Regions from separate parts of the Homo sapiens genome. Here regions 2, 3, 4, 5, 6 and 7 are each reported to be linked to region 1. Evidence: microRNA targets listed by miRTarBase, many of them from high-throughput screens and not tested one by one. Region 1 holds a microRNA gene; each other region holds the end of a gene's coding sequence. Distances are between the middles of the regions.
What was found. Region 1 holds the annotated microRNA hsa-miR-6779-5p (CUGGGAGGGGCUGGGUUUGGC, at 2,300-2,320, shown strand). A microRNA usually pairs through its seed, bases 2 to 8, with sites in the 3' UTR of a target mRNA and lowers its output. Matches are read on the target gene's strand: a 7mer-m8 pairs with bases 2 to 8, a 7mer-A1 pairs with bases 2 to 7 and ends in A, and an 8mer does both.

Region 1 (4,093 bases):
GGGAGGTGGAGGAAGCCTGGGGCCAATCAGGATCTGGATCTAGCAGGGAACACCGAGGCCGGTGTTCTCGTCCCACCATGGGACTCAGCCTGAAGAAGACAAGGTGAATGAACGACCATTTCTCTCTAACTCAGTTGGCTAAGAGGACTGAGCTGGCGCCGAGGCTCTGGACACAAATGGGCCAGTTGACCCTGAGGTTTCTTTCTGGTAGTGGAGGTGGGGCTTCCTCTGGCTGACCCTGCTTAGGTCTCTGATGGAGGTAGCAGGGGCTCTGGTTCCCCCAAACTGGCCAAGTCCTCCACCATAGCACCCAAGGGGTCTGGGCAGAGTGCAGCTTCCCTCCCCTCCCCAGCTTGGCTTGGTGGGCACCTGCCTCCCCTGCCCTCCTGACCTTGATGGCTAATGCAGCCAGCCCCAGGCAGGCACAGTCACAGCCCTCAAACAACATGAGGCCCAACTCAAGACTCCTGGGTGGTGGTGGTCAAGGTGGGGGACTCTGTAGCCAGTAGAGCACTGTGGGGGCAAGAGACTGACTTGAAGGCTTGGAGCCTCACATGCCCGCCTAGTGGGGTGGTCCTGAGGGATATGACTTCTTTGGGCCTCTCTGCTCATTTTTGGAACCTGACCCGAGAAGGAGCCCATCCAAGACAATGTCCCGCCCTCAGGGAGGGTCTGGCAGTTTTTATCCCTAAAGGCTGGGATTCTCAGCGGAGCATCCTAGGCTGTAGTACCCACGACATCTTGCACACAAGAGGTGGAATCGCCTGTTGATGAAGAGCAAGGCTCTGGAATCTGTGATCTTGGGCCACTCACTTCACTTATCAATCCCTTCGCTTCCTTCTTGCCTGTTACATGGGGTCTGCAATCTACCCCTCAGGGGCGCTGACGAGCTCACATGAGCCTGTGACATAAAACACCTAGCACGGCCCTGGCGCAGTAAGAGCTCAGGAAACGGGCTGCTGCTGTGGTTACTGTGGACCCAGGCGGAAACAGAGCAGCCCCGCCCCTGCCGCAGGCATATAAAAGTGACCACTTGGCCGGTCACGGTGGCTCACGCCTGTAATCCCAGCACTTTGGGAGGCCGAGGCGGGTGGATCACCTGAGGTCAGGAGTTTGAGACCAGCCTGGTCAACATGATGAAACCCTGTCTCTATTAAAATACAAAAAATTAGCTGGGCGTAGTGGCAGGCGCCTGTAATCCCAGCCGCCCAGGAGGCTGAGGCAGGAGAATCACTTGAACCCTGGAGGTGGAGGTTGCGGTGAGCTGAGATCGTACCATTGCACTCCAGCCTGGGCGACAGAGCCAAACTCCGTCTCGAAAAAAAAAAAAAAAGAAAAGGGACCACTCACTTTGGTCTGATTCTTCAGTTCTCATGGTCCTTTTACATCGGTCATTTCATTGCATTCTCCAACAGTGTCTGAGGGAGACTGGTGTCTCATTTTGCAGAGGTGAAAACTGAGGCTTGGCAAGATTAGGTAGCTTGTCCAAGGACACACAGCTGGTGCTTCCAGAGCGAGACCTGGCTTTCTGTACCCAAAGCTCTTGGGTAGTCTCTCCCATCCTGGGATCTTGAGGGTCACGGGAAGGAACTGGGTGGTTTGCAGTGGGACCCTTCACCTAGTGCCTTCTGACCTTGCAGATAAAATACCATGAGGAGTTTGAGAAGAGCCGCATGGGCCCTAGCGGGGGCGAGGGCATGGAGCCAGAGCGTCGGGATTCACAGGACGGCAGCAGCTACCGGCGGCCCCTGGAGCAGCAGCAGCCTCACCACATCCCGACCAGTGCCCCGGGTGAGTGCAGGTCCTGTTGGTGCAGATGACCTGAGGCGAGGCCAGTGGGGTGGGGAGGAAGCCAGGAGAAGACAGACAGACAGATACACCTTCCGGAGCCTTGCTCTTAATCAACAGGCGATTATGCCTCTTGTGTGCAAGAGGGGACCAGAGGACCTGAGGCCGGGCCAGCTGGGGTGGGGAGGAAGTCGGCGAGAGACAGACACACACACACACACACACACACACACACACACACATGCACGCACGCATGCAGGCGAGGAAAAGACTGCTTCCCAAGACCCCAAGTTCCATTCTCATCCAGAATGAGGACGTGAGCACCAGGGTCAGGCCTGTACTGGGCCAAGAGGATTGAAAGGAGAGGCCCCCAGGTCATGGGGCTCAGAGCCCCTGCGTGGGATACAACACACAGGCAAATGTGCACACGTGGACATCAGCCTTTGAGCTGTGGGGCTTGAGCCAGGTTGGGGGCGGGGTGGAAGTGCATGGTATGGACTTCTCGGGAGCTCTGGGAGGGGCTGGGTTTGGCAGGACAGTTTCCAAGCCCTGTCTCCTCCCATCTTCCAGTTTACCAGCAGCCCCAGCAGCAGCCGGTGGCCCAGTCCTATGGTGGCTACAAGGAGCCTGCAGCCCCAGTCTCCATACAGCGCAGCGCCCCAGGTGGTGGCGGGGTGAGTAACCCTGGCCGGAGGGGAGAGGCCAGAGGCAGGGGGTCCTTCGGGAAGGCTTGGACACAGCTCATGGATTCTCCTGACCTTTGCACCCACCCTCTGTTGTGTGTGATGATAAGGATCTCAGCCTTGTGAGCAGAGAGGAAATTGGTTGGCGTAGTGGGCAGAGGCTGGCTGGGACTGGGGCCCTGCGTTCCAGCCCTGGTGTACCATGGGCAGGTTGCTCACCCTGCTTTGGGTGGGGTTTCCTTACCCCAGCTACCTGGGAACACACAAGGCAACTTTCTGCATGGGGCCTTCCAGCACTGGGCGCTGCTCTCCTCGCTTCATGAGGATGGCCCCCACATCCTTCAGCTCTCAGGCTGCCCCTGCCTCTGAGGGGCCTCCCCAGCCATGTCGTGTAAAGCGCATCACCCTGATGCTTTGCATCACTCGACTCCGCTGGCTGCCTTCAGAGCACTTTTTCCAACTAAAAAGAGCTCTTCGTGTTGGTCACCTTCTCTGTGTCCCCTGCTGGGCTGGGGACCCTGGCAGCGTCCGTCTGGTTCACCTACTCTGAGCCAGGCCTAGAGCAAGTGAATAAGCCCAGCAGGAATGGGGTGAGATCAGGCTTCCTGAGCCCTCAGAGCTGAAGTCCCGGCTCTGTAAGTCCTGCCACTCACTCCACCCATGGGTGCCGCTGAGCCACCCTTACCAAGCTCCTGGCAGGCTCAGCGCCTCCAGGCTGGGTGCCTGGGAATTCAAAGTAGCTCACGTAGGAGCAGAACAGATACTTAGAGAGATAAAATCGCCTGAGATAATGGCTGGCTGGAGTCTGATGCTCTGGGCACACAAACAAAGGGATGTTAGGACTGCCCAGGGCACTGTGGGCGCAAGAGTTAGTCTGAAGTATAAGGTTCCAGGCAGCCCAGCCAGTCCCTCCCTCCTCAATGGGTCTGTCCTGGATGTGTAGGGTCCATCTCTGAATATAAAGCCACCTCTCTGCCCTCTGGGGGCTTACATTCCAGTCAGGGGGACAAACAAGAAAACAATAAGAAAATAGGTGTATAACATAAGGTCAGCGGTGACACGCTGTGAAGAGAAAGACAGCAGGGTGAGGGATGGATAGAAAGCAGCTGGATTAAGACATTTGGCCGGGGGTGGTGGCTCACGCCTGTAATCCCAGCACTTTGGGAGGCCAAGGCGGGCAGGTCACTTGAGGTCAGGAGTTCGAGATCAGCCTGGCCAACATGGTGAAACCCCCTGTCTACCAAAAATACAAAAATTAGCCAGGTGTGGTGGTGTATGCCTGTAACCTGTAATCCCAGCTACTCGGGAGGCTGAGGCAGTAGAATTGCTTGAACCCGAGAGGCAGAGGTTGCAGTGAGCCAAGATTGCACTATTGCACTCCAGCCTGGGTGACAGAGCAATATCTCCAAAGAAAAAAGACATTTGGCCGGGTGCGATGGCTCACACCTGTAATCCCAGCACTTTGGGAGGCCAAAGTGGGCAGATCACCTGAGGTCAGGAGTTCGAAACCAGCCTGGCCAACATGGTGAAACCCTGTCTCTACTAAAAATATAAAATTAGCTCGGCATGGTGGTGCATGTTCATAATCCCAGCTACTCGGGAGGCTGAGGCAGGAGAATTGC
Region 2 (4,000 bases), not on the chromosome of region 1:
TCAACACTCCATAAATCTATTTATTCTAAATTTGGGTTTTAGGCATAGTTAAGAAAGTAATTACTGTTACTGGAATTCACCTGATAAACCATGTATAACATAATTCATTGCAGAATCACATTAAATATCAGTTAAACATGTATTATTCATAAAGTTTTTTGTTATTAGAAAAAGACCTTAAATGCTTGGCAACCAATTCTAATAAAAATTTTTTTTCTCTTTATAGGAGAGTTAATCTTGGTCTATCTGGTGTGAATATATTGTGGATCTTTGGCGAGTAGCAAGTCATATATTTAATTCTGACATTTAGACTATTTCACTGAACCAGAAGTCGAAACTAAACATCTCTGAGCCACTGACTCTTCTGAAATAAAATACACATGGGTGTATGTTACAGACTCTTTAGATTTAACAGAAAATGTAGCTGTTATGAAATGTAATTGTAAAAATATGTCCCGTATCTTCTATATCGAGACATTGCCTTTAATTTTATATCGCTTTTCAGAAATTTCAGTTGACTACAAAACTGCAACCCTTCGGATTTTTATTGACTCAAAATAGTGCCATTCCCCTTAATGAAATAGATTTTGAGTCTTTTTTTCATTGTAACCCCCAAATGAGAATCATCTACCTGATTCTTGTACCAAAAAAAAATTTTTTTCAGTCTTTTTTTTTTTTAGAGAGGGTCTCTGTCAACGCAGACTGGAGTGCAGTGGCACGATCTTAGCTCACTACAACTTCTGCCTCCCAGGCTCAAGCAATTCTCCTGCCTCAGCCTCCTGAGTAGCTGGGATTACAGGCATGCACCACCACGCCCAGCTAATTTTTGTATTTTTAGTAGAGACAGGGTTTCACCATGTTGGCCAGGCTGGTCCCGAACTCCTGACCTCAGGTGATCCACCCACCTCGGCCTCCCAAAGTGCTGGGATTATAGGTGCGAGCCACTGCGCCCAGCCTCAGTTATTTTATTTAACAGTGTAAGTACTTAGAAAGTAAGAAAATTGCTGATTTAGTTTTTTTTTTTTTTTTTTTAATGTTTCCCCAGCATTCTGCAAGTTAGGCCAAAGCCCACATTCAAAGAAATGAGATTAACTCTTAAGTAATGTATTAAGTTTATGTATATTTTAAAATATTATTAAAGGAGGTTTGAAAGTATTGACATTTAAAAAGTCAACACTTAGATTAAATTTAGCTGGTAGTTTTAATTTGGGTTTTAGTTAAGAGTGTGAGGACATCAGGAAAACTGTTTACTACTTTGGTTTTAGCAGCTCAGTTTTACTATTCCATAATGTGTTATTTTTAAAGTTCTCTTTTTAAGATCACAGTGATATCCTATCTTCAAATTTTTTAAATATGTTCAAAATATCTGGAGGGTGAGAAGTTACCAAGTTTGTATGTTTTGTTTGACTCACCATCTTTATTTTCTGTATATGTAGTAGCTGGCAATTGCATATATTTTCTTGATTAACATATTAGAGACTGCTTCCATCATCTTATGTAAACCTGGAAACAGCTGAAACTAGTCTTTTCTGAAGAACCGTGTATCAGTGTTAGATGTGCATCCCGTTTTGTCATTCCCTCAGACTTTGAATACAGTCATTACTCTCTGGAAGAGAAATGTAAGTATATTTTTTGTTATCTGCAGTATGGTTTAACATGTATTAATAATACACATATGCAGACTCACTAAAGTATCCCCAGTAATTAGTAAATTCCAAATTTAAGTCAGTACAGTTCTGTATTTGTAAATTCTGTCTTTCAAAAAGTTGTTCGTGTTTTTAAAAGTTGATGTCCAAAGGAAAGGAGCTTCTTTTAAGTACTTTTGGTGTATGTTGAATATTTATTTGCTATGATATTCTAGAAGAAAATATCAAACATGTTAAATATAAGAACATGTTAAAATTTAAATTTGCTATTTCAAAAGTTACTGAAGATGTCTTGGAATAACAATTGTCATGCTGTTAAACTAGTTGCATATACTTCATTAAAAGCACCATGGAGAAACATTTTAACAATGCATAAGATGAAATGTCTTTTTTTCTTTATAGGACTTAGATAGCTTTTAGTCTAAAAATTCAAAGCTTTAATATTATATTTTTAAAGTGACTATCAAAAAAATACAGTCTACAGTAAATATATACATAGGGATACACACTTAAAAAGATGTTTTGTTTGCATACTATTAATAAGTCTAGTGTGGATTACTGTACTCTGGGTAGCTTTCCTATATTAGCTTTTCTTCCCAAATATTTGAGCCAGTTTGTACTTAAATATAGCTTTTATTAAAAATACTTTGGTAGATTCATTTGAATTCACCCCTCAGGAAGACAGTGCACTGCAAATAAGGCAATTTTTTTAGTCCTTGTGTTAAAATGGATAAATGCCTACTAATATCTCTGATCAAATGTTATTTACAGGATATATGTCACAAGTTTTTCTTTGATTGCTTGACTTCTTGTGGGATCAGATCCACTAATCTTCTAGATTACATTCACTTCATCATTTATCCTTTTCTTTGTCTATAAATATCATCCTTAAGCCAGATTTCTTTTAGAGGCATATTAGGTGTTTATAATTTAGTTTCTACTGAGACATACAAATGTTACGTTGTGTGGCTTTCTTTCTCAAACTAAAATATACTTGACACTGATATTTTATATTTTAACAGTAAAGACACGCAGCATGTGGGGTGGCACTTTTTTTTTTTTTTTTTTTTTTTTTTTTTTTTTGAGATGGAGTTTCACTGTTATTGCCCAGGCTGGAGTGCAGTGGCATGATCTCAGCTCACTACACTCAGCTCACTGCAACCTCTGCCTTCCGGTTTCAAGCGATTCTCCTGCTTCAGCCTCCCGAGTAGCTGGGATTCAGGCACCCGCCACCACGCCCGGCAAATTTTTGTATTTTTAGTAGAGATGGGGTTTCACCACGTTGGCCAGGCTGGTCTTGAACTCCTGACCTCATGATCCGCCCATCTCGGCCTCCCAAAGTGCTGGGATTACAGGCATGAGCCACCACACCCAGCCCTTTCTAGACAGCTTTGTAATAGAAATGCGCACATTGAAATGCACACATTCCTCAAAGGTCAGTCTTTGGTCCTCTGATTCACTGTATATGCTTTTCCTTAGAGATCTCATTCATTCCACTTCATTTATCACCTCTCTGCCTTTGACTCCCGAATTCATCTTCAAGCATAATGTTTCTCCTGAGCTGTAGTGTTGATTTCCATCTACCTGTCAGACATTTCCGCTTGGATATTCTGTGAACTCCGTGTCTGGAACTGCGTTCACATCTGCTCAAATCAGCTCCCTCTACTTACATCCCTTTTTCTGTTCATTGTACTACCAGTTACCGATGCTCAAAATTCTGGTGTCATCTTTTGATTCCTGGAGCTCCCTGGGTCCCCAATCCAATCAGGCAACAAACCTCATCCATTCTTTCTTAACAATGTCTCTTGCAGCTGCACTTCTTCCATTTCTGCCACCACTATGCTCATTTACACCCTTATCAACCCACACAGGACTACTGCAACAGCCTAATTAATCTCACAGCCTTCGAATTGTTGCCATGCTTCCATATTTTCCAATTCATCCTGCACATTCTCTTCAAATTCATCTTCCTAGAACACCTGTTTGATCATTTCATCCCCCTGATAAATTCCTTAGCCTGACATTTAAAGCTCCACACAATCTGGCCCCAACCTGGCCTCATGCACCTAAACCCTTGGCTCCAGCCAGTGCAGACTGCTCACTGCTTGCTGGGTTCTCTCTATGCTACCTCCTGCTCATCCTGATCACTCTCTGGAGATGCCCCCTCCCAATCTACTGTCTTCCTCTGCATTGAGACTTCCTCTAATTAAACCTTCTATTTGGAGCTAGTCCTGACCACTCCAGATGGCAGTCATTTCTCCCCTTGAGTGATTAGATCTGTGCCCCTCCTTTGGCACTCAACAGCTACATGAATGGATTCAGAAGTGACTTTTAGTCGAACAGTAGGTCCTCAT
Region 3 (4,093 bases), 34 Mb from region 1:
GAGGAGTGGGACCCCGAGGAGGGGGAGGGTGGTTACCATGGCGATGAGGGCGCCGCTGGCACCATCACCCAGGCTCCCCCGTACGCCGTGGCGGCCCCTCCCCTGGCAAGGCAGGAAGGCAAGGCTGGCCCAGACTTGCCCTCCCTCCCCTCCCATGCTCTGGAGGATGAGGGGTGGGCAGCAGCGGCCCCCAGCCCCGGCTCAGCCCGCAGCATGGGCAGCCACACCACACGGGACAGCAGCTCCCTCTCCAGCTGCACCTCAGGCATCCTGGAGGAGCGCAGCCCTGCCTTCCGGGGGCCGGACAGGGCCCGGGCTGCTGTCTCAAGACAGCCAGACAAGGAGTTCTCCTTCATGGATGAGGAGGAGGAGGATGAAATCCGTGTGTGAGGCGGACAGTGGGTGGCCACCGGGAGCTCTTGGCTGCATCTTCTCCCTGCCCCCACCCCACTATGACCTTTGACCCTACGGCGCAGGGGCAGCCAGGACCCTTGATTCAGACCATGGACCCTGGACCTTGTAGATGAGGGACACTGGCCTGGCCCTCGGGTCTTCGGAGGACGTAGGGGGCTGGCATGGGTGCCGACTGGCTGCCTGACTTCATCATGCTCCCTGCACTTAGGCTGCGTGGGACAAGGGCTGTGTTGTCACAGCAGGAATAGGTTTTCCTCTGTTGGCCTCCCTTTCCTCCACCCTGGCCTCAAATGGATGCCAGATGCCAACCCCAGTTCTGGCCACGTACAGCCAGCGGGTCAGCCCAGAGGCAGCCTCAGCTCCAGGGCTAAGGACTCTCGGCTCCCATTTTCTCTGCTGGCGTTTCTGCTGTGCCCAGCAGTGGCTGCTGGGGAAGCAGCTGCAGCAGGAGGGAGACGGTCTTGCCTCTCAGCCCCTCCCTGCCCCACCCCAGCTCCTGCCCTGGAAATCTGGAGCCCCTTGGAGCTGAGCTGGACGGGGGGCCAGCTGCGAGCATGTGCACTAAACGCAGCCCTTTCCAGGGGAAGAGAACAGGATGGAGAATGGAAGGAAAGCCCCCCAGGCTTCGTGAATTGCAAGAAGGGACCCTTCCAGGATGACACTAGGAACAGGGCTAGGGCACTCGCTCAGTCCCTAGGGGCTTGTTTGTTCTTTATTATTGTGTTTAAATCCTTATAGAGCAATATCAGGATGGTGTTAATAGGTCTGCCTCAGAATGAGAATCAATCCTTTTAGAAAACCTTTATACTAAGCCTCCTCTTCAAAATTCACAGTGGCGATTAGCGGACTGGAGTCTGGTGGCGATTAGCGGACTGGAGTCTGGGGACATCCGTGGCAAAGACACCAGCTCAACTTTAGTGCTTCCCAACTTTATTTAGAATGACATGGGGTGGGTGTCTGGTGTGTGTGTTTTCCCTACGCACCTCCCATAGCTATTAACAACTGAGGAAGGCCAGTGCAGAATATTTTTGGAGAACGATTTTTTTTTTAAATAATATATCATTCCTATGGGGGGAAAGCCTTTTTTTTCTTTTTGGCTGAGTTATTCCCTCCCTCCCCTCAATACCCTCAGTACTGACTACTTCCCTTTCTTTTCTCAGGCCTCCCCCCACCGACTTTTGAGGCCAGGGTTGGCCAGATTTAGCAAAACCAAAACAGAGTGCTGAGTTAAACGCAAATTTCAGGTAAACAAAAGATAATTTTCTAGCATTAATATGCCCCACGCAATATTTGGAACACTTATGTGAAAAATGATTTGTTTTTCTGAAATTCACGTTTCTCTCTGAGTCCTGTAACTGTCCCCGAGGGGATTGAGCAGAAGCTCGGGTATGAGCCCTGAGGTTGACTGCCGGTTATTTTTCTGTCCTGGGAACAGCCTGACCCACCTCCCTGTCTCCATGTAGCCAGTGAGGGGAGGGGGAGACACAGAACCAACCACAGCCAGGGGCGTCCCCATGGCGACTGTGGCCCGGCCCCTCCTCTCTTGCCTGACTCTCCTCTCTTGCCTGACTCTAGACACTAACTTAGTTCCAGGTTCGGTGCCCTGTTGGTGCTCCTGTTTCCAATAGCTTAGGTCCCATGGTGGGGGAGGAACCTCAGGGGCTATGCAGCCCCCGCCAGCTGCCCTCGAATCCCGTCCAGGCCAATTCCAGATTCTAAACTGATTTTTTTCATGATATTGTCAAAACAGTGAGGAAACATTAAAAAAAAAGCCCTAAAGCACGCCTGGTGTCTGTCTCTGCTTTTTGGGAGGGCTATTTCAGGATGGGGGTGGGGTCTGGACCCAGGTCCTAGAGCTGTCCAGGGGGGCCTGAGGTGGCTTCTGTCTCTCTGTCCGTGAGGACCCGCCCTTCCTGCGATGCTGTCTGCCTGGGCAGGCCCCTTCAGAGTCTGGGGACTCAGGTGTCCCTAACTGCCATCTCTTGGAAGCCCTTGGCACTTGGTCGCTTAGCTGTTCTGTGCCTCCCTCTCCTGCTCTGTAAAATGGGTATCCTGCCACTCTTAGAGGGTTGAGGCACAGAAACAGTGACATGGGCTTTTTGTGGGGGAGGGGGTTGGTTTTTTGTTTTTTTTTGTTTTTTTTTTTTGTTGTTGTTGTTTTGTTTTTTTTGAGATGGAGTCTCACTCTGTCGCCCAGGTTGGAGTGCAGGGGTGTGATCTCAGCTCACTGCAACCTCCGCTTCCTAGGTGCAAGCGATTCTCCTGCCTCAGCCTCCCAACTAGCTAGGATTACAGGCGTGCGCCACTACACCCAGCTAATTTTTGTATTTTTAGTAGATACTGGGTTTCACCATGTTGGCCAGGTTGGTCTCCAACTCCTGACCTCAAGTGATCCGCCCACCTTGGCTTCCCAAAATGCTGGGATTACAGGTGTGAGCCACCGTGCCGGTCGACATGGGCTTTTTATACAGTTGTGATTAGGATGAGAGTGACTGTGTTCTCCCCAGCCCCCTGGTGTCCTGGTGCACGGAACTGTCACCACCAGAAAGTGGCTGGCCCTGAAGGCAGTTTCTGCATGATGCTGGGAGCGGGGCTACCACCTCCTCTTTCCCCTTTTACCGTTAAGCCTGGAAAATCAGCTTACAAGTGGCAGGTCCTCAGTTCAACCTCACTTCTCAGGGAGATAGAAGCTCCACATCCCCATTTTCCAGATGGAGAAAGATGATCAGATAAGCCTCGAGGCCGCCTTCTCTAATGCCCAGAATTCATTCAAAACTCCTGCCCTTCTCACCCCACCACTCCTGGGCACATCAAAACCTCGGGATATAAAGTCAGGGGGTGAGGGTCTAGTGGCCCCTGAACCCACTGCCCTGCCCCTGCCCTACCACCTCCTTCCCTTGAATCATGTTCCCCTCTTTCTGGACAGCTTCAGAAGGGAGCCCTGGTCTGCGTAGGGCTGGCTCACTGCTTGTTGAAGCCCCCGCTTGCTCTCAGGAAATCTGGGGAAATCTTGGGGATCTCAATGTGGCTGAGTTCCTGGTGGAAACCCTGCACTCTCCCCTGAGCACCCACAGAGAAATGTGAGTTCCCCACTCATCTCCCTGGAAAGCAATTAGAGGCATAATTAAAATGTCACTCAGGTCCCTCCCTCTGTCCCTAGACAGGCTCATTCGTGTGGGAGTTATGAGCGGGGACTTCTGGCTGCCCCAAGGGAAGAAGAGAGAGGGAGGAGAGCTGGGGCCCATTGGGAGACGGGTCCCTAGGGGCTACAGTCTAGCTCAGGGATGACTGGGGAGAGGAAGGTACTGTTCAGGCGAGGACCAGGCAGATGAGAAGGGGCTGTGCCTCCCAGACACAGTGCAACCTCCCAAGAGAGAGAAATGACTGTACCTACACCGACTAACCAGGGACTCCCTAGGGGCCCAGAGAAACCAGCCGCCCCGAGCCCCAGAATCTGTTTCTTGACCATTGATGGAAAAGCTCTGAGCATTCAAGAAGACCCGGGGACCTGGCTTGATTCACAGCTTTAAGGAGCATACCTTCTGGCTGGGGGTTCAGTGGACCCAGGAGACAAGGATGAGATGAACACGCAGAACCAGCCAGGCCACAGAGCTCTGTTAAGATTTGCTGGGAGCCAGGCGCCGTGGCTCACACCTGTAATCCTAGCACTTTGGGAGGC
Region 4 (4,000 bases), not on the chromosome of region 1:
CCCTCCCATCCCTGCCCTCCACACTGCAAGCTGCATTCCAGCCACAACGCCCTTTTCTAAATCTATTTTCATTCATCTCCTATTCTGGTCTGTAGCCTTGATTCCAACCATTGAATGCACGGAGACAGCCCAGTGGCTTGTCAGATTGGTAAATAATGACACCTGGTGGATAAATGTTACATTCTAGAAGACTATTCTGGTCAGCCTAGGTCTGAAACACTAAGGAGACTTGGCCTGAGATAGGGCCATCCACTTGCCTACAGGCACTCTGCTTTTATTATTAAAAATAGTCACTTTGTTACTATAATAAAATTTAACAGAAAAAATTAGTGTGGCTATATAAAGATGGACACTCTATTGCTATGCAGATCTTAGGTTTCCTGGCCAGATGTCAAGAACCTTTCTAAAGGCAAAAGAGCTCTGATGGTCTGCCTTCTCCCAGCTCGAAGAGTGTCCCCAGCAATACTGAGCCAACAGGCATTCACTTACTGGAGACCTGGGGAAGGGGTAAGAGGCAAAAGAGAGCAAGTGAGCTATTTAGAAACAAACACTTAGCACTTTTATTTTATTTTTTTGAGACAGAGTCTTGCTCTGTCATTCAGGCTGGTGTGCAGTGGCACGATCTCGGCTCACTACAACCTCTGCCTCCCAGATTCAAGTGACTCCCCTGCCTCACCCTCCCGAGTAGCTGGAATTACAGGTGTTCACCACCATGCCCGGCTAATTTTTGTATTTTTAGTAGAGACAGCGTTTCGCCATGTTGGTCAGGCTGGTCTCGAACTCCTGACCTCAGGTGATCTTCCTGCCTCGGCCTCCCAAAGTGCTGGGATTATAGGCGTGAGCCACTGCACCCCTTCAGCATCCTTTTTGATTAAAGTGCTAAGTGTTTAGGGCCAGGCAGCACTTTGGGAGGCGGAGGCAGGAGGATCACATGAGGTCAAGAGTTTGAGACCAGCCTGATCAACACGGCAAACCCCATGTCTACTAAAAATACAAAAATTAGCCGGGCGTGGTGGCACACGCCTGTAATCCCAGCTACTCAGGAGGCTGAGGCACAAGAATCGCTTGAACGTGGGAGGTGGAGGTTGCAATGGGCCGAGATCGTGTCATGGCACTCCAGCCTGTGCCACAAGAGCAAAACTCCATCTCAACAACAACAACAAAAAAGGATGCTTTCTCCAAAATATTTAACCTTTTTCAGTGGTAATATTTGACTAGTGGCAGAAAAATGGAGATACATTGTAAAAAAATTACTCCTTAAAAGAAAGTGTAAGGTTAAAAAGAGAGGTAAATAGATACTTGTTTAGGGCAGAGGCTAAAGGAGAGAAAATAAAAGATCTCAATCTTCAACCCAAAACCAGGCTCTGAATGGCACTACAGCTTGGGGCTTAGTGCCTGGGGTCCTCTCACAGGCAACTTCCAGAGGAGCAAGGCTCAGAGGAGAATCAAGTTTAGGACTTGGGGGAAAAGTTAGGGCTAGGCAGGCAGGGTAGTGCACTGGGTAAGAGCTCAGCCTCTGGGCTTAAACAGGTCTGGGTTTAAGTTCTGGGATCTGCCCCTTAGTGTCTATGGGACCTTGGAGAAACTGCTTAACTTCCCTGAGCCTCATCTGTAATACAGGGATAATAATAGTACCTTCCTCCAACAAGGACGTGCATGTAAAAGGGTTAGCGTGGGGGTCAATGTTCCACCACTCTCCTGTTGCAGAAAAAGGGAAACTCCGGCAGGAGTGGACCTGCCAGAGGTAACCCAGCAGGTGTGGCCATAACTAGTCTCAGGACTTAAGTACTCTGATGCTCAGGGTGAGAGAGGTCCAGTAAAGGGAGCTGGAATCAGAAAGGCTCGGTTACAAATCTCACCCAGCTGTGCTACCTACTAGTTGGGACAGCCTGAGATTGTCTGATTTAAATAAGAAAAAAAAGTTCATACGTCCTCCTCTGTAGAGGCTGAGAAAATTAGATGACTTGATAAAGTGTGCAGGGTCAGTTCCAAGGGCTAACCCGATTAACTTTTACAAACAGCAAATGGGTTGATATTCATGAAGACGCAGGGCCAGAAAGTCAGGAAAACTAGGTATAGGCAGTTCTGGTGATTTCTTTATTCTTTATAAACACCTTTTTCTACAGTACAATTCAGAGAATAAATAGAGGCACACGGCTATAACTTCCACCACAATCTGCTGTTGAAGAGACATTCAATGTGAGGCTAGGGAGCTAGAGGTGGGGGACGTATTTGGGTACCAGGGTAACGGGAGGCCTACGTAATAAACTGCAGAGATCCCATCAGTAAGGTCTGATTGCGGCCTGACGGTCAAGGCTCATGATAGAAGAGCTACAGTGAGCCAAATGCTCCTTTAGTTCCCCACAGTCCTAGAGTAGGTCCAATTCTACCAAAACCCCAGGGGTTCGGGTGAGTCTGATTTATTGGTCCACTGGGAAGAAACTGTGTCAGCCCAAGCCATCCGTATGAATTCAGTTCACTCCATGGTAGTGCCTGAAGTGGCCTAAATATTCTACCCTTTTCCCTGGAGTTAGTCACAAATACAAGTAATAAGATTACTGTTTACATGAGTTTTTTTCTTGATTGTCCCAAAAAGGGATCCTGTTCCCCATCTAAGGAAGGAGAGAGGCACACATGGGGATTATCTGCTCTAAGTTGATGAAAGAAGACAGCCTGTCTTCTAAAGGGAGGAGGAAATAGCACTCTTACCGAATCCTTCACGGGGACATAGGCAGGAATGAATACCAGTCTGATCAGACCAAGTGGAAGCCTGCAGCCATGATTCCAACCAGCATGAGGAGTAACATATGGAAAAGCTCTGCCAGCCAGGCACAGTGGCTCACACCTGCAATCCTAGCACTTTGGCAGGCCCAGGCAGGAGGATCACTTGAGCCCAGGATTTTGAGATGAGCCTGAGCCACATAGCAAGACCCTGGCTCAATTTTTTATAATAATAAAATTAAAGGCTGAGCGTGGTGGCTCACGCCTGTAATCCCAGCACTTTGGGAGACCAAGGCGGGTGGATCACGAGGTCAGGAGTTTGAGACCAGCCTGGCCAATATGGTGAAACCCCGTCTCTACTAAAAAAAAATACAAAAATTAGCTGGGTGTGGTGGCGCGCTCCTGTAGTCCCAGCTACTCAGGAAGCTGAGGCAGGGGAATTGCTTGAACCTGGGAGGCAGAAGTTGCAGTGAGCTGAGATCATGCCACTGCACTCTAGCCTGGGCGAGAGTAAAACTCCATCTCAAAAATAAAAAATAAAATAATAATAATAATAATAAAAAAATTAAAAAAGAAAAGCTCTGGCCTTGACTTTCACAGGGCTGCTGTACTGAGCCACCCCTATCTTTTCCCTATTTCTCCAGAGTGGCACAGAGCACTGGCCCTAAGCTGGGGCTAGGATCACCTGTCCCCAAAGCAGCAGAACGAAGGTTCTGTATCACTTGGCAGAAAATGAAGCAGAAGGGTCACAGCAGGCTACACTGGGTAACCTGAGGTCTTAGGAACAGAGTATCAACCAGTGAGAAGAGGTGGCTCCTCTGTCCTCCAGCACATAAGGGTTAGGGAAAGACAGAACCACCAATGACTGCTGCAGGGTCTGCTGGCCAGCATCCTCAGCACTTTTCTGTGGTCCAGTTCTGGAATGGCAGGTGACAGGGCACATACAAGGCCTCTGCTCCACTGTCATTGTCAACTCATCTCAGCTCTGATTCATTTGTTCACCTCGAATCAACAACAGGGGCACTGGCTTTACCCAATACTTATCAGCTGGTGCCCACTGCGCTGTCAGGCAGTGAGATTTCTGGCTGACTTGGAGGCGCTCTGGGCCCGCTGAACAATGGCAGAACACTTCTCACGTCGCAGCAGCTTGTTGTTCTCAAAGAGACCTTCATTGCGGGGGATTCCATGAGAACCATCAGGGAAAGTCAGCAGGCCTTTGAGGAGGGCAGAGAAAATATGGGAGTGACAATGGCATTAATGTCTCAAAGATGAGACATAT
Region 5 (4,093 bases), not on the chromosome of region 1:
TGTTTCAGAAACCGGTCCCAGGGCTGGAAGGCCTCCAAGTTCCACTTCCCTCAGTAGCTCCCAGCCACTCACCTTGGCAGTTTCTTAAAGGACACAGAGCCAAGCTCTGGAGAAAACAAAGAAGTCACAATCACAGGAGAGTCAAAATTCCCATTGGGTGACAGCGTTTATTGAAAGGAAATCTTGCTTTATCCAGGAATTCACTCACATGGAGGTAGCTGCAAGGAGAATGTCTCTTTCTCATGACAACCAAAGCGACCAAACCATACCCTAAAGCAGAGACGCAATGGAATAAGTCAACGGGCATTGTAGAACGACACTCAGAAGCAGGAAAAACCATAAAAGATACAGGATGATTGTCTCTTCAGTATTGCATTTGGCCATGTATGTGTTTTTACATAAAATATATGTTTTCTTTTTAAGCTAGCTAAAGAAAATACTCTTGATCGGGGTTAGTTCTTAAAGCAAAAAACAGAAGAAAAGTATGTATATATAATAAAATTAAAGAACGATAGCATGTTATACCTGGAAAGGACCGTGGGCACTAATCTGCACTTTGTTCCAGGTAATCCATGGCTCTGAGAGTGAGCACACTGTCAAAGTCACTGGGGTGAGATGAGCCGGGACTTGAAAACCCTTCTCTTAACTTTCAGTCTCAACTCTTCCCACTCCACTATACCGCATGCGTTGCCAACTCCCTCAGAGTGTAGGATAGCGCAATTGTCAAAACGCATAACAGCCTATTTTTAGGGTAATGATGCAAGTGTTTTGAAAAGTGACCTGTGTTCTCTTTGCATGGGCAGTTTTGCTTCTTGTAGCCAGCCCCATGGCTACTGGAAAGAACTGGCCAGAATGAGGGGCAGCTACTTTCTCACAAACCAAAACAGACACACACTCCCAAAGTTCTTGGGTGTGCTGACCTTCCCCAGCAGCGTCTCTAGGTATGAGTGGGCTGAGGCTTCTCTCAGCAGGCTTACTGGCAGATGTCTAACGATGGGAGAAGCAGCAGGGAAATTATGAACATATTGAGGGTCAAAGTGAGCTCTAGGGAACCAGGCTTGTTGCGTCCTCAGAAGGACAGACAGAGGGCTGAGTACAGAGGTGCTCAACCTCCATGTCGATTTGATTGTCATTTATCACCCCCTTTCCTGACACTGAGCTCCAGGAGGGGAGGAATTTTTGCCTGTTTAATTCACTGCTGTATTCTGTGTGCCAAGGACTGTGCCTGACACATCACCGATGCCCAATAAATATGTGCTAAATGAATGAATGACTAAAGGGAGGAATCGGCCACACCCCACATAAGCAGGCAGAGGTGAGAATCACCCCTGGCTGTGGTGAGGATGACAGTGACCCTGTAGATGTGGAAGGGGCTTGGCTGTCTGGCTCCAGACTCCCACCCTTAAACTGGGCTGACCACTCTGAAACCTGCCGGGTGGGCTCTGACCTGGCACAGGTGGGACTCCATGGCTACTGTCATGGAGTCCTCTGGCCCACAGGCCCCCACCCTATTGGGATGGTTGGGGACACTGCTGAAGCAGCTGAACACTACCATCTCTGCCACATATATGTCACCAACTCACAGGGTCCTCTCCCTGACCATGTCCTGTCCCATATTCTGACCTGTGGAAGCCCAGCTGTGACTGGGCCTGGCCTGTGGGCATGCCTGGGGACTGTCACATTGTGAAGTGACACAGGAAGGCCAGGAGGGAGTCCCTGGATATGTAGCATCCTCCCGATGCTATGCTCCCTGAAATTCCTCTCCAGCCATGTGGCCTGGCCCCCAGACCTCAACCACTCCCTGCCAGCCTGCTGCTGGCGATGTCGCTTTGTTCCAGGAAGTTGGAAGGAGTCCTCCAGTTTGCACAGACACGCCTCTGCCTGACTTCTGTTTCTTTCTTCCCTTCCTCGACATAACCCTGAGATCCTGCTCAATCCACCTCTTGCCCACACATCCCCCAGCTTTCAAGAACTTCTCTGTCTTCCTTCTCACACTGGGCCCCATACCCACATCTGCCTATCTCCTCTCTCATCTCCCTTCCCCCATGACCTTACCAGACACCTCCCACCTCATTCTCACACCTAAGTCTATGAACCTTTCCCCCATACCCTCTTATTCCCCCGATCCCAAAAGCTTGCTGTGGGACATGACCACACAGCCCTATCCTTCCAGAAACGGCCTCATTTGTTTAAGGCCTTACCTACAACTCTCCCTACCCAACCTGTGTAAAAGAAATTGCAATCAGTGACTGGGAACAGGTCTCAGAACAGTTCAGAAATTATAACAGAATTCCAGATAAACTAAGCAAACAAGGCCATAGCTGCAGTCACAGACACAAGCAACCTTCTGGCTTTCCCCTGTGCCAGTGACTTGTTTACCCAGACCATGTGAACTGCTATGCTCAGTCTTAGCTGTCCATGACCACTACAATTCTTCTTTTCCAACTTTGGTTTCCAAACTGGTCTTTGACTTTATTTGACTTTCTCTCTCTCTCTCTCTTCTCACCTCTGCTCCTCAACACTTAAAATCTAATAGCTTCATATTTTAAAAAAGAATACTCAATGGCTGGGCGTGGTGGCTCATGCCTGTAATCTCAGCACTTTGGGAGGCTGAGGCAGGTGGATCACCTGAGGTCAGGAGTTCAAGACCAGCCTGACCAACATGGTGAAACCCCGTCTCTACTAAATACAAAAAATTAGCCAGGAGTGGTGGTGGTCATCTGTAATCTCAGCTTCTTGGGAGGATGAGGCAGGAGAATCACTTGAACCAGGGAGGCAGAGGTTGCAGTGAGCCAAGGTTGCGCCATTGCACTCCAGCCTCGGCAACAAGAATGAAACTCCATCTCAAAAAAAAAAAAAAAGAATACTCAATATAGATGCATGAACTTTACAAACCAGCCACCCTACCAAGCCTCCATCACATTCCAAACCCAACAGCAGCAGTTCGTGAGAAGGTCTGGTTTAAAATATGTACAAGCTATACATGGTTTCCTCCCTGCACAGTGCTATTAAGTAAGTCCTAGCCTTCTGGACCCTTTGTCTTGGCAGGGGGAGTGATGAGGGGGCAGGGACAGCAATGCAAATAGTGGCTGTGGAACAGGGGCCTCAGCCTACCAAAGTGTATCTCTCACAACACCCCAGTGGGTGGTGGCTCCTGGTCCTCAGGCATCCCAACATTTTAAACTGCAAAAGCTCTCTGTCGAAGACCCACTGAGAGACCCTGGCGAGGAATGTAACACTGAGGAGCTGGCATGCTGTGCAAAGAGGCTGTGATTGGTCTCAGTGGCAGACAGATGCTCCCCTCCCTGCCTCCCACTTTGGGTGGCTGCAGCTCCTGCAGGAATGACAGGTACTTCCACAGCCCGGGAGAGCACTCAGATCTGGCTGGCGACGGTGCTGTCCTTGGAGAATGTGTAGCTCACAGGCGCCTCATAGAGGCTTCCCCCATCCGTGCTGAGGTCATCGTCGTCATCCATGTCATCCAGCACTTTACTCGGCAGCTTCTTCAGTCTGCTGAAATGACAAGGGGCATGTTTCCTGGCCCTGGGCCGGGGCCCATAGCTAATTTGGACTTAAAGGGAGGGTTTTGGGTTGCTGTCCCTGCACCCCACTGAGTGGCACAGAAAAGAAACACATGAATGTAACAGGTCTCCACCTGATGGCCCCTTCAGCCACAGGGAGTCCACCGCCCCCATTTCGGCACGGAAAGCCTGTGCTGGTGGGGTGGGCCAGGCTGGGATAGGATCAGTATTGTTGATTTCCCCAGGCTGTTATTATTGATCTTGTCTTAATTTAAAATTTTGGTATCTTGTTCACCATGGATTGCATGCATTATCTTTTAAATATTGCATTAAAATGTTATCTATCTTAATTATTGAGATTTTTGGTGCCCTCTTAAATGCTGCACCCTAATGCCAACCTTGGGGCCAGTGACCTGATAGGCCCTGTTTTACAGGACTCTCAATGGGCTGGAGCCTTCTGTCCATTGATGAGAACTACCCGGGCAGCCAGCAAAGAGCCCCACGTCACAGCCAGCCTCCAAGAAAGGCTCAGCTCTATGGATTACCATGAACCTAATCTCATGAACCTTACC
Region 6 (4,093 bases), not on the chromosome of region 1:
ACCCGATGGGTGTAAGCAATGTGGGAAAGCCTTCAGATCTGCCAAGTACATTCGAATACATGGAAGGACTCACACTGGTGAGAAACCCTATGAATGTAAGCAATGTGGGAAAGCATTTCATTGTGTCAGCTCCTTTCATAGACATGAAAGGACTCACGCTGGAGAAAAACCTTATGAATGTAAGCATTGTGGGAAAGCCTTCACTTGTTCCATATATATTAGAATACATGAAAGAATTCACACTGGAGAGAAACCTTACCAATGTAAGGAATGTGGGAAAGCCTTCATTCGTTCCAGTTACTGTCGAAAACATGAAAGAACTCACACTATTAATATATGAGAGAAATGCTATTTTTTAATTTTTATTTTAATAGAGACAGGGTCTCACTATCTTGTCCAGGTTGGTCTTGAACTCCTGGCCTCAAGCATCCCTCCCAGCTTGAAGTGTCAATAAAGGAAGGCAATAAAATGTAGAGATGGAGTTAGGTGATGCCACGCTGGGATTCACTGGTGGCCTATCTTACATATGATTTCGAAGGCAGACATGAGGAAGGCCTTAGTCACATTTTAGAGCCAGCCAAATTCACATGGGCTGTGTGGCCCCCTGATTCTAGCCCATTTTCCTGATTCTCTGGCTTGTCAATCAAGAGTATCCTCCAAATCTCTTGACTTTCCTTTTTTCAGAGGTGTAGGTTTCCAAAGATGTCCCCAGAAGCTCCACATTCAAGTTCTATCTACAGTTTGGTTTTTCTTTAAGTATTGTAATGTACATACCAGAGAGATAATGCAGACTGTCATGGGTGGGGAATGTTCTCTGATGCTCAACTCCCCTAGTCTGCAGATTGAGTTGGTAGGAGGTGTGATTTGTTTACATGCACCTTTGTTCCTGCTGGTAGTGACCTTGTTCTTGATTCAGCCTGACAGCTACTATGCTGCCATCAGAACCAACTTGATGAGAGCTCTGCTGCCCTGTGCAGTGACTGGTCTCATCCAGGACTCTCATGTGAGAAGGAACACCTTGCTCTGGTCAGGAAATGTCCAGTGTTTCCTGTTATCCACAGGAGAATGTAATGCCTCAGTTCATTTTCAGTTATCTTTGATTATATGTGATTGACAATGTGTATTTTTGAGGGAGCAAAGATTTCTGTACATATTTCTTAAAAATAGTTTATTCAGCTGGGTGCAGTGGCTCATGCCTGTAACCCCAGCACTTTGGGAGGCCGAGGTGGGCGGATCACGAGGTCAGGAGTTTGAGACTAGCCTGGCCAACACAGTGAAACCCCATCTCTACTAAAAGTACCAAAGTTAGCCGGGTGTGGTGGTGGATACCTGTAATCCCAGCTACTCGGGAGGCTGAGGCAGGAGAATCTCCTGAACCTGGGAGGTGGAGGTTGCAGTGAGCCAAGATCACGCCACTGTACTCCAGCCTGGACAAGAGAGCAATACTCTGTCTCAAAAAAAAAAAAAAAGGTTTATTCACTGTTTTTCAGTTGTGTACTTGCAAATGTTTTTCTCTTTTTTTTGTATACTGAGAAGCTCTATTAAAATATCCCTTGTCAACATGGATCAGATCAAATGTATACTGTTACCAAATTATTTGTTTGATATTGTGAATCAATATCACCATGTGTATAAACCTCATTTATTTCCTGATGTAAATTATACATTTCATGCATATCTACTTATAATTTTTACCTTTTTTTTTTTGAGACAGGGTCTTGCCTTTTAACCCAGGCTGGAGTGCAGTGGTGCAATCATAGCTCATTGCAGCTCTGAGCTCCTGGGCTTAAGTAATCCTCCTGCCTCAGCCTCCTGAGTCGCTGGGACTACAGGTGTGCACCATCATGCCTGGCTAATTTTTTTTTAATTTTTAGTACTGAGGAGGTCTTGTTATGCTCCCCAGGCTAGTCTCCAACTCCTGGGCCAAAGCAATCCTCCTGTCTCAGTCTTCCAAAGTGCTGAGATTATAGGCGTGAGCCACTGTTCCCAGCCACAATTTTTATCTTGACCATAATTTGTCATTCTTTTATAATCCCCGAAGTTAAATCTTGCTGTTATGGTGCTGTGTTGCCCAAAACCACCAGTACTAAAAAAACTGTTGTCAAAGAGGATGTAATAAATTGTAGTAATAAATATGACCACAAGCCATAAATGACTGCAGGACATACCAATAAGAGGGTTCTCTGTAGAATTTCTTACAGGATTTCTGTTTTAGGTGCATTGTTCTCTATTCAAGGAGGTGAGTCATTTTTGTATATTGGATGCTGTCAGGATGTGAACTTAATTGTACCACTGCTAATCATAGTAGTTCTCACCTAGAAGGAGAAAGAATGGATTGGAGGTAAACCTAATTGAAGACAATTGCTGGTCAGTCCATTATGAGAAGAGGGGAACTGGAATTTTTGGTTATTTTTATGATTTGAAATATGTTTTCTTCTATCCCATCTAGGGACGTGGTTACAGAATGCCCTCGTTTTTGTCCTGCTCCATCATGGTCACTGAGGAGCACTGCTTCACACTGCAGGTGTCTGACATGGCTTAAGATTTGGCCTTGTGGTGAGGGGAGGCAGCTCCCAGACTTGTGGACCTGTTTTTGCTTTACTTATTCTCCAAAACCTAAGATATTTCTTAGAGTGTATGAACACTGTTCCACAAAATGCTCCAGTTAAAAATATATAAAATCACTTACTCCTTAGGAAGCTGTATAATACTTTTAAAGAAATTCCTTACTGAGTCAAGTGTGGTCAATATATTTATGTAACTGTCTGAATGCACGCCTAGGAAGGATGAAAGTCAGTATCACTATTCCAACCAAGCCTTTCTTGCTCAGATAATATGCTCTTGATGCACCCCTCTTTTTTCTTTTTGACACAGGGTCTCATTCTATCACCCAGGCTATGTGGAGTGCAGTGGCGTGATCTCGGCTCACTGCAATCTCCACCTCCTGGGCTCAAGCGATCCTCCCACCTTAGCCTCCCAAGTAGCTGGGACCATGCCCAGCTAATTTTTGTATTTTTTTTTTTAGAGACAAGGTTTCACCATGTTGCCCAGGCTGATCTCGAACAGGAGTTCAGCAACCCTTTTATGCCACACTGTAGAGTAATAGGCAACATGGAAAAGTTAGTTTTATATATTATGCAGTGGCATGGACCAATCCAATCACTTTTTTGAAGTGCCAGCCAAACTCTTCTTCAGAGAAGCCTGTTTGAAACCCCCTAGAGTCAAAACCTGGTACCACAGGACAGAGCAGCAATGAGTGACCAACCCCTGACTCTATGTGCAGATGACACATCCATCCCCAGATTAGGTATCAACATAAGTGAAAGGTACTGTCATTGCCTGTCATTTTTTTTTTTTTTGAGATGGAGTCTCACTTTGTCACCCAGGCTGGAGTGCAGTGGCACGATCTTGGCTCACTGCAACCTCTGCCTCCTGGGTTCAAGCTATTGTCCTGCCTCAGCCTCCCAAGTAGCTGGGATTACAGGTGCCCGCCACCACACCCGGCTAATTTTTGTATTTTTAGTAGAGACGGCGTTTCACCATGTTGGCCAGGCTAGTCTTGAACTCCTGACCTTGTGATCCACCTGCCTCGGCCTCCCAAAGTGCTGGGATTACAGGCGTGAGCTACTGCACCCAGCCCATTGCCTATCAGTTTTTATAGAGTGTCGCTTAGATCAAGAAAGAGATGGTAATACAGAGTTAGGTGTGTCTGAAACCAAACACGACCTCATCCTTCTCCCTTGAAGGCCAAATGCACTCTGAGAGTTTGGTTAGAGTACAAACAACGCCACCAACTTCACTCCAGATGTGATTTTCTACAGGAGGCGGGCACTGTGTTGGGATGGCCAGTGAAGGTAAGGAACACTAGAGGTGCAGGTTTAGGTGATGAACAGGACACAGCCTGGACATTATTAGCCTTGACTATGGAGGTGTCTTGATGTTTCTCAAATTGAGACCAGTCTGGCCAACAGGATACTGAACTGGTTTTCGATGGAAAAATTCATCTGTATAGGGATCTATTCGCTTCCTTTAAGTTTCAGTTTCGTTATGTGGCATTTAGCATGAGTGACTCCATTTTGGTCTGATCTGGTTT
Region 7 (4,093 bases), not on the chromosome of region 1:
CGGATCACCTGAGGTTAGGAGTTCAGGACCAACCTGGCCATCATGGCGAAACCCTGTCTCTACTAAAAATACAAAAATTAGCTGGGCATGGAGGCATGTGCCTGTAATCCCAGCTACTCGGGAGGCTGAGACAGAAGAATTGCTTGAACCTTGGAGGGGGAGGTTGCATATCTGAGTGGTGAAATTGTGATTCTTTTTTTCTCTTTGTCTGTATTTTTGAACTTTTCTATAAATGATTGTGTTTTGTTTTTATATTGGAAAAATATTATGCTTTCAAATGTTAATACCTATGAAACTAAACACAAGTAATAAATATATTAGTATAGCATTTATTAAGGTTTCTTGTGTAGCAGATCAACATAGAAAATATATTTAAATGGCTGACATAATTTTCTAAGAATACATACACGTATATTTTTTATAACATTAAGAAACAGCAGCATCATTACTTTAATCCATCATTTCGTTAACCACCATATACCTGTTGATCATTTGTATTGTCATGTGCTTTTTAAAAATCTAGATGAGAAATATTCGATTATCTGACTTCACTGAATCCTTGAAAAAAATAAAACGCAGCGTCAGCCCTCAAACTTTAGAAGCGTACATACGTTGGAACAAGGACTTTGGAGATACCACTGTTTAAGGAAATACCTTTGTAAACCTGCAGAACATTTTACTTAAAAGAGGAAACACAAGATCTTCAATGAACGTCATCGGCTACAGAAACAGCCTAAGTTTACAGGACTTTTTAGAGTCTTACATATTTGTGCACCAAACTTGAAGATGAACCAGAAAACAGACTTAAACAAAATATACAATGCAAATGTAATTTTTTGTTGTTTAAGGCCTTGCCTTGATGGTCACAGTTATCCCAATGGACACTAAGTTAGAGCACAACAAAACCTGATTCTGGTCTTCTTTACCAATATAATCATAATGTAAATAATAATTTGTATATTGTGTTGCAGATGAAAGTATTCCAGGAACAGTGAATGGTAGAAGACACAAGAACATTTGTTTGTTTGTCTTCTGATGTTTTTTCTTAAAATAGTAATTTCTCCTACTTTTCTTTTCTACTGTTGTCTTAACTACAGGTGATTGGAATGCCAAACACTCTTAAGTTTATTTTCTTTTTTCGTTTTATAAATTCAGTGTGCCAAATGAAACTTTTTTCCTAAGTAACTGTAATAGGAAAAAGTTTATTTTGAGAGTTTCTTCTTCATAAATCTACAGACATTAAACAATTGTTGTGTTCTTTTTACCTTTTATTTTTCTATTACCTTGCTACCAAACAGTTTAGATAGCAATATAATAGCAAAAAAGCAAATATGGTAAAATAGAGAAGGTTTGAAGGTTTGAGTTACTCTGTCATATAACATGTAGATCAGTCTTCATGTGACCTGCAGTATTTTTTTTTCTAATGTATTTGTCAGAAATCTGTTGTAGACTGTTAACTTCTTCCTGATGGAATTTATTTTCTGCAAGAATTATTCTGATATTTAAGAGAGCCAATTTTAACTGCTGTGAAAATGTTTCCAGTGCAAGAGAAGGGAAATACTAGGAACTAAGACATTTCTAATTTATTGCTTATTACTTTCTTAATTTTACAGGATAATTATAAGCAAGTGGAACTACCATCTTTTATTCTTAATAATTATTAATCCCTTCAATGAAACTTTAAAAAAACTGAATTTTTATACATGGCATACATTTTTCTAGTTCCTTCTGCTTGCTTTATTAACTCAAAAGTTCTAGTTCTAGTCTGTTGATCTGCCTTTTGTTCTCCCAAAATGTACAGTAATTCCATTTGTTTGTATAAATATGCCTGGATTTTCATTATAAAAATGTCATTGTAGGGAGTAGAGACTCATATCATGGCCTTTTAAATATTGTAATAAAGGCAAATAGATATTTGCCCTTAGTTTACTGGTTAAAAGTTTGTTTACAGAACTTTTCTCTGGTGCTTAAATGATGCTATGTAAAATGTCATGAGTGGAAAGAATATTTGTAGTAGTAACAAGAATTTTTCATTTAGGAAAGATTTCTTAGGTTTTGAAAGAATACATTAAAATAAAAAACTTGCCCCTACTAGGTAAGAACTTTATAATGAAGACATACATTCTTCTTAATTTTACTCTTGCTCTTGTTAAAGATTTGTTTGAATATAGAAGATGCATGATTTCTGGGTTTTTTTTTTTTTTTGAGACAGAGTTTCGCTCTTGTTGCCCAGGCTGGAGTGCAATGGCGCAATCTCGACTCACCACAACCTCCGCCTCCCAGGTTCAAGCAATTCTCCTGCCTCAGCCTCCCGAGTAGCTGGGATTACAGGCATGCGCCACTACCCCAGCTAATTTTGTATTTTTAGTAGAGATGGGGTTTCTCCATGTTGGTCAGGCTGGTCTTGAACTCCTGACCTCAGGTGATCCGCCTGCCTCGGCCTCCCAAAGTGCTGGGATTACAGGCATAAGCCACTGCGCCCAGCCAGAAGATGCATGATTTCTTAGGATCATATGCTGTTTGTAGCCATAAGGTAAATCATGTCTCTTCCAATCATGACTTTGGAACTCCCTGAATAATAAAAATGAGAGTTGAGATAAATAGGGGAAAAAAAATTTTTTTCAAGCCAGAGCTATGCATATGTTAGGTGATGGGTAGTATCCCTTTAAGGTCTCAAACATTACAACATCAATTATGAAATACTGATAACGAAAGGTAGTAATGAAATATATATGATGAAAAGAATTGAGAAGTTCTAAATTAAGACATTTCAGTTAAGCTCATAAAATTTCATTGTTTTCATTTAAAAGATTAACGTTATTGATACTTGGATAACTGGCTAATCATATTAAAGGACTATGTGGTTCCAGCTCAACTTTTAATATATTGTCTCCTTTAAAACTATCATGGTTATAATTCTATTGGGAAAGACTTTTAGATAACAAAGATTTCAAATGTTAAAAGAGATAAAAGTCAGGTTAATACTATCTTAAACACTGAGTCAGAAAATCATTACTGTATAGAAGTTGCTTTCCTGATCAAGTCTGAACTTCAGCTAGTGCTAGAGAACTATTTTCTATGACTTAACTCTAACCAAGTTTTATTTTAAGCTGTTTCTTTGATAGAAGGGCCATGAAAATAGAGTAATGATATAGTAGGAGATAAGGGATTGGTTTGGTCTTTTTCAATAAAGATAGAAGTTGCTGAAGTTTTCTGAATTAATAATGACTTAGATTGTGACCTTTTAGATTCGGTGTTGAGCTCTGTGTTGTATTACTTCCTAAAAGATAATGCTTAAACATTAAGCATTAGTGTGCTCTTCATGTTAATATGGCAGAGTTTTGTAAACTAAATTAAAACTTACTGATATATTGGACTTTGAGCCAAGGGAAAGAATGAGTACTATCTTTCCAGATATCTTAAGGGTAAAAGCTTATTCTAAGACAGTCTGTCCATTGAGAATATTAGATTTCTGACTTGCAAATATGTTTGTACTCCAGAAGAATTAGAGGAAAAGCAGATACTAGAATTCTAATTTAATTACATATACAGCCGTCTTTGTTTATAGTGTAGAATTCTTTATATTTTGTACAAAAACTAATTCTTTTGGTAAAATGAACCATTTACAGTTCGGTTTTGGACTCTGAGTCAAAGGATTTTCCTTTAAATGCTTGTCTCAATTTTAGTCTGGTCTTTTGTACTTTTCTTCAGAAGAAATGAATTAAAGGGTACAGTTGCATAAAGTGGGTTTTTATCCTAATGTATTGGAAATAAATGATAAACTTTATTTTGTCTTTACTTTTTTACTTTAAAACTTTTTGATATTTTAGGGGTTGGAGTCTGATAATGAAGGAGTTGTGTGTATTGGACTCTTAGTAACAATTATAAACGCTTAACAAAATATAGAAAGCAATGATTGGGTGGCTCTGCAGAGCAATCAAAACAAGGTAGAAACTGCAAAGTCCTATAATGGAAGAGATTCAGGCTGGGTGTGGTGGCTCATGCCTGTTTGGGAGGCCAGTATGGGAGAATCGCTTACACTCAGGAATTCAAGACCAGCCTGGGGAATATAGGGAGACCCTGTTTCTGCCAA

Region 2: the mRNA of TMEM209 is a reported target of hsa-miR-6779-5p. Seed matches in the 3' UTR shown: 7mer-m8 at 744-750 and 8mer at 911-918.
Region 3: miRTarBase lists CDC42EP4 as a target of hsa-miR-6779-5p. Seed matches in the 3' UTR shown: 7mer-m8 at 1,397-1,403.
Region 4: the mRNA of MORN4 is a reported target of hsa-miR-6779-5p. Seed matches in the 3' UTR shown: 7mer-m8 at 3,173-3,179 and 7mer-A1 at 3,003-3,009.
Region 5: the mRNA of CGNL1 is a reported target of hsa-miR-6779-5p. Seed matches in the 3' UTR shown: 8mer at 2,737-2,744 and 8mer at 2,603-2,610.
Region 6: miRTarBase lists ZNF491 as a target of hsa-miR-6779-5p. Seed matches in the 3' UTR shown: 7mer-m8 at 431-437.
Region 7: miRTarBase lists SPAST as a target of hsa-miR-6779-5p. Seed matches in the 3' UTR shown: 7mer-A1 at 1,786-1,792, 7mer-m8 at 2,276-2,282 and 8mer at 2,441-2,448.

What each region holds. Positions count from the first base shown.
Region 1 is chr17:38,912,685-38,916,777 of GRCh38, forward strand. It overlaps MIR6779 (microRNA 6779), which reads left to right and starts at 2,295; the gene lies at 2,295-2,358. LASP1 (LIM and SH3 protein 1) reads left to right here. Exons shown (of 7, transcript NM_006148.4): 5 at 1,641-1,791; 6 at 2,359-2,462. RefSeq lists an enhancer at 1-187 and a silencer at 3,991-4,093.
Region 2 is chr7:130,162,732-130,166,731 of GRCh38, reverse strand. It overlaps TMEM209 (transmembrane protein 209), which reads left to right. Exons shown (of 15, transcript NM_032842.4): 15 at 227-2,019. The coding sequence ends at 281. Among named protein-coding and RNA genes, the nearest start is that of LINC03008, 23 kb to the right of the region's middle.
Region 3 is chr17:73,281,727-73,285,819 of GRCh38, reverse strand. It overlaps CDC42EP4 (CDC42 effector protein 4), which reads left to right. Exons shown (of 2, transcript NM_012121.5): 2 at 1-2,196. The coding sequence ends at 390. Among named protein-coding and RNA genes, the nearest start is that of CPSF4L, 22 kb to the right of the region's middle. RefSeq lists enhancers at 517-1,073, 3,926-4,055.
Region 4 is chr10:97,612,477-97,616,476 of GRCh38, forward strand. It overlaps MORN4 (MORN repeat containing 4), which reads right to left. Exons shown (of 5, transcript NM_178832.4): 5 at 2,079-3,935. The coding sequence ends at 3,787. It overlaps HOGA1 (4-hydroxy-2-oxoglutarate aldolase 1), which reads left to right. Exons shown (of 7, transcript NM_138413.4): 7 at 1-326. Among named protein-coding and RNA genes, the nearest start is that of MORN4, 19 kb to the right of the region's middle. RefSeq lists an enhancer at 1-69.
Region 5 is chr15:57,546,772-57,550,864 of GRCh38, reverse strand. CGNL1 (cingulin like 1) reads right to left here. Exons shown (of 19, transcript NM_032866.5): 19 at 148-3,510. The coding sequence ends at 3,375. Among named protein-coding and RNA genes, the nearest start is that of GCOM1, 43 kb to the left of the region's middle.
Region 6 is chr19:11,806,928-11,811,020 of GRCh38, forward strand. It overlaps ZNF491 (zinc finger protein 491), which reads left to right. Exons shown (of 3, transcript NM_152356.4): 3 at 1-1,576. The coding sequence ends at 340. Among named protein-coding and RNA genes, the nearest start is that of ZNF440, 5.3 kb to the right of the region's middle.
Region 7 is chr2:32,153,851-32,157,943 of GRCh38, forward strand. SPAST (spastin) reads left to right here. Exons shown (of 17, transcript NM_014946.4): 17 at 524-3,787. The coding sequence ends at 646. Among named protein-coding and RNA genes, the nearest start is that of SLC30A6-DT, 9.8 kb to the right of the region's middle.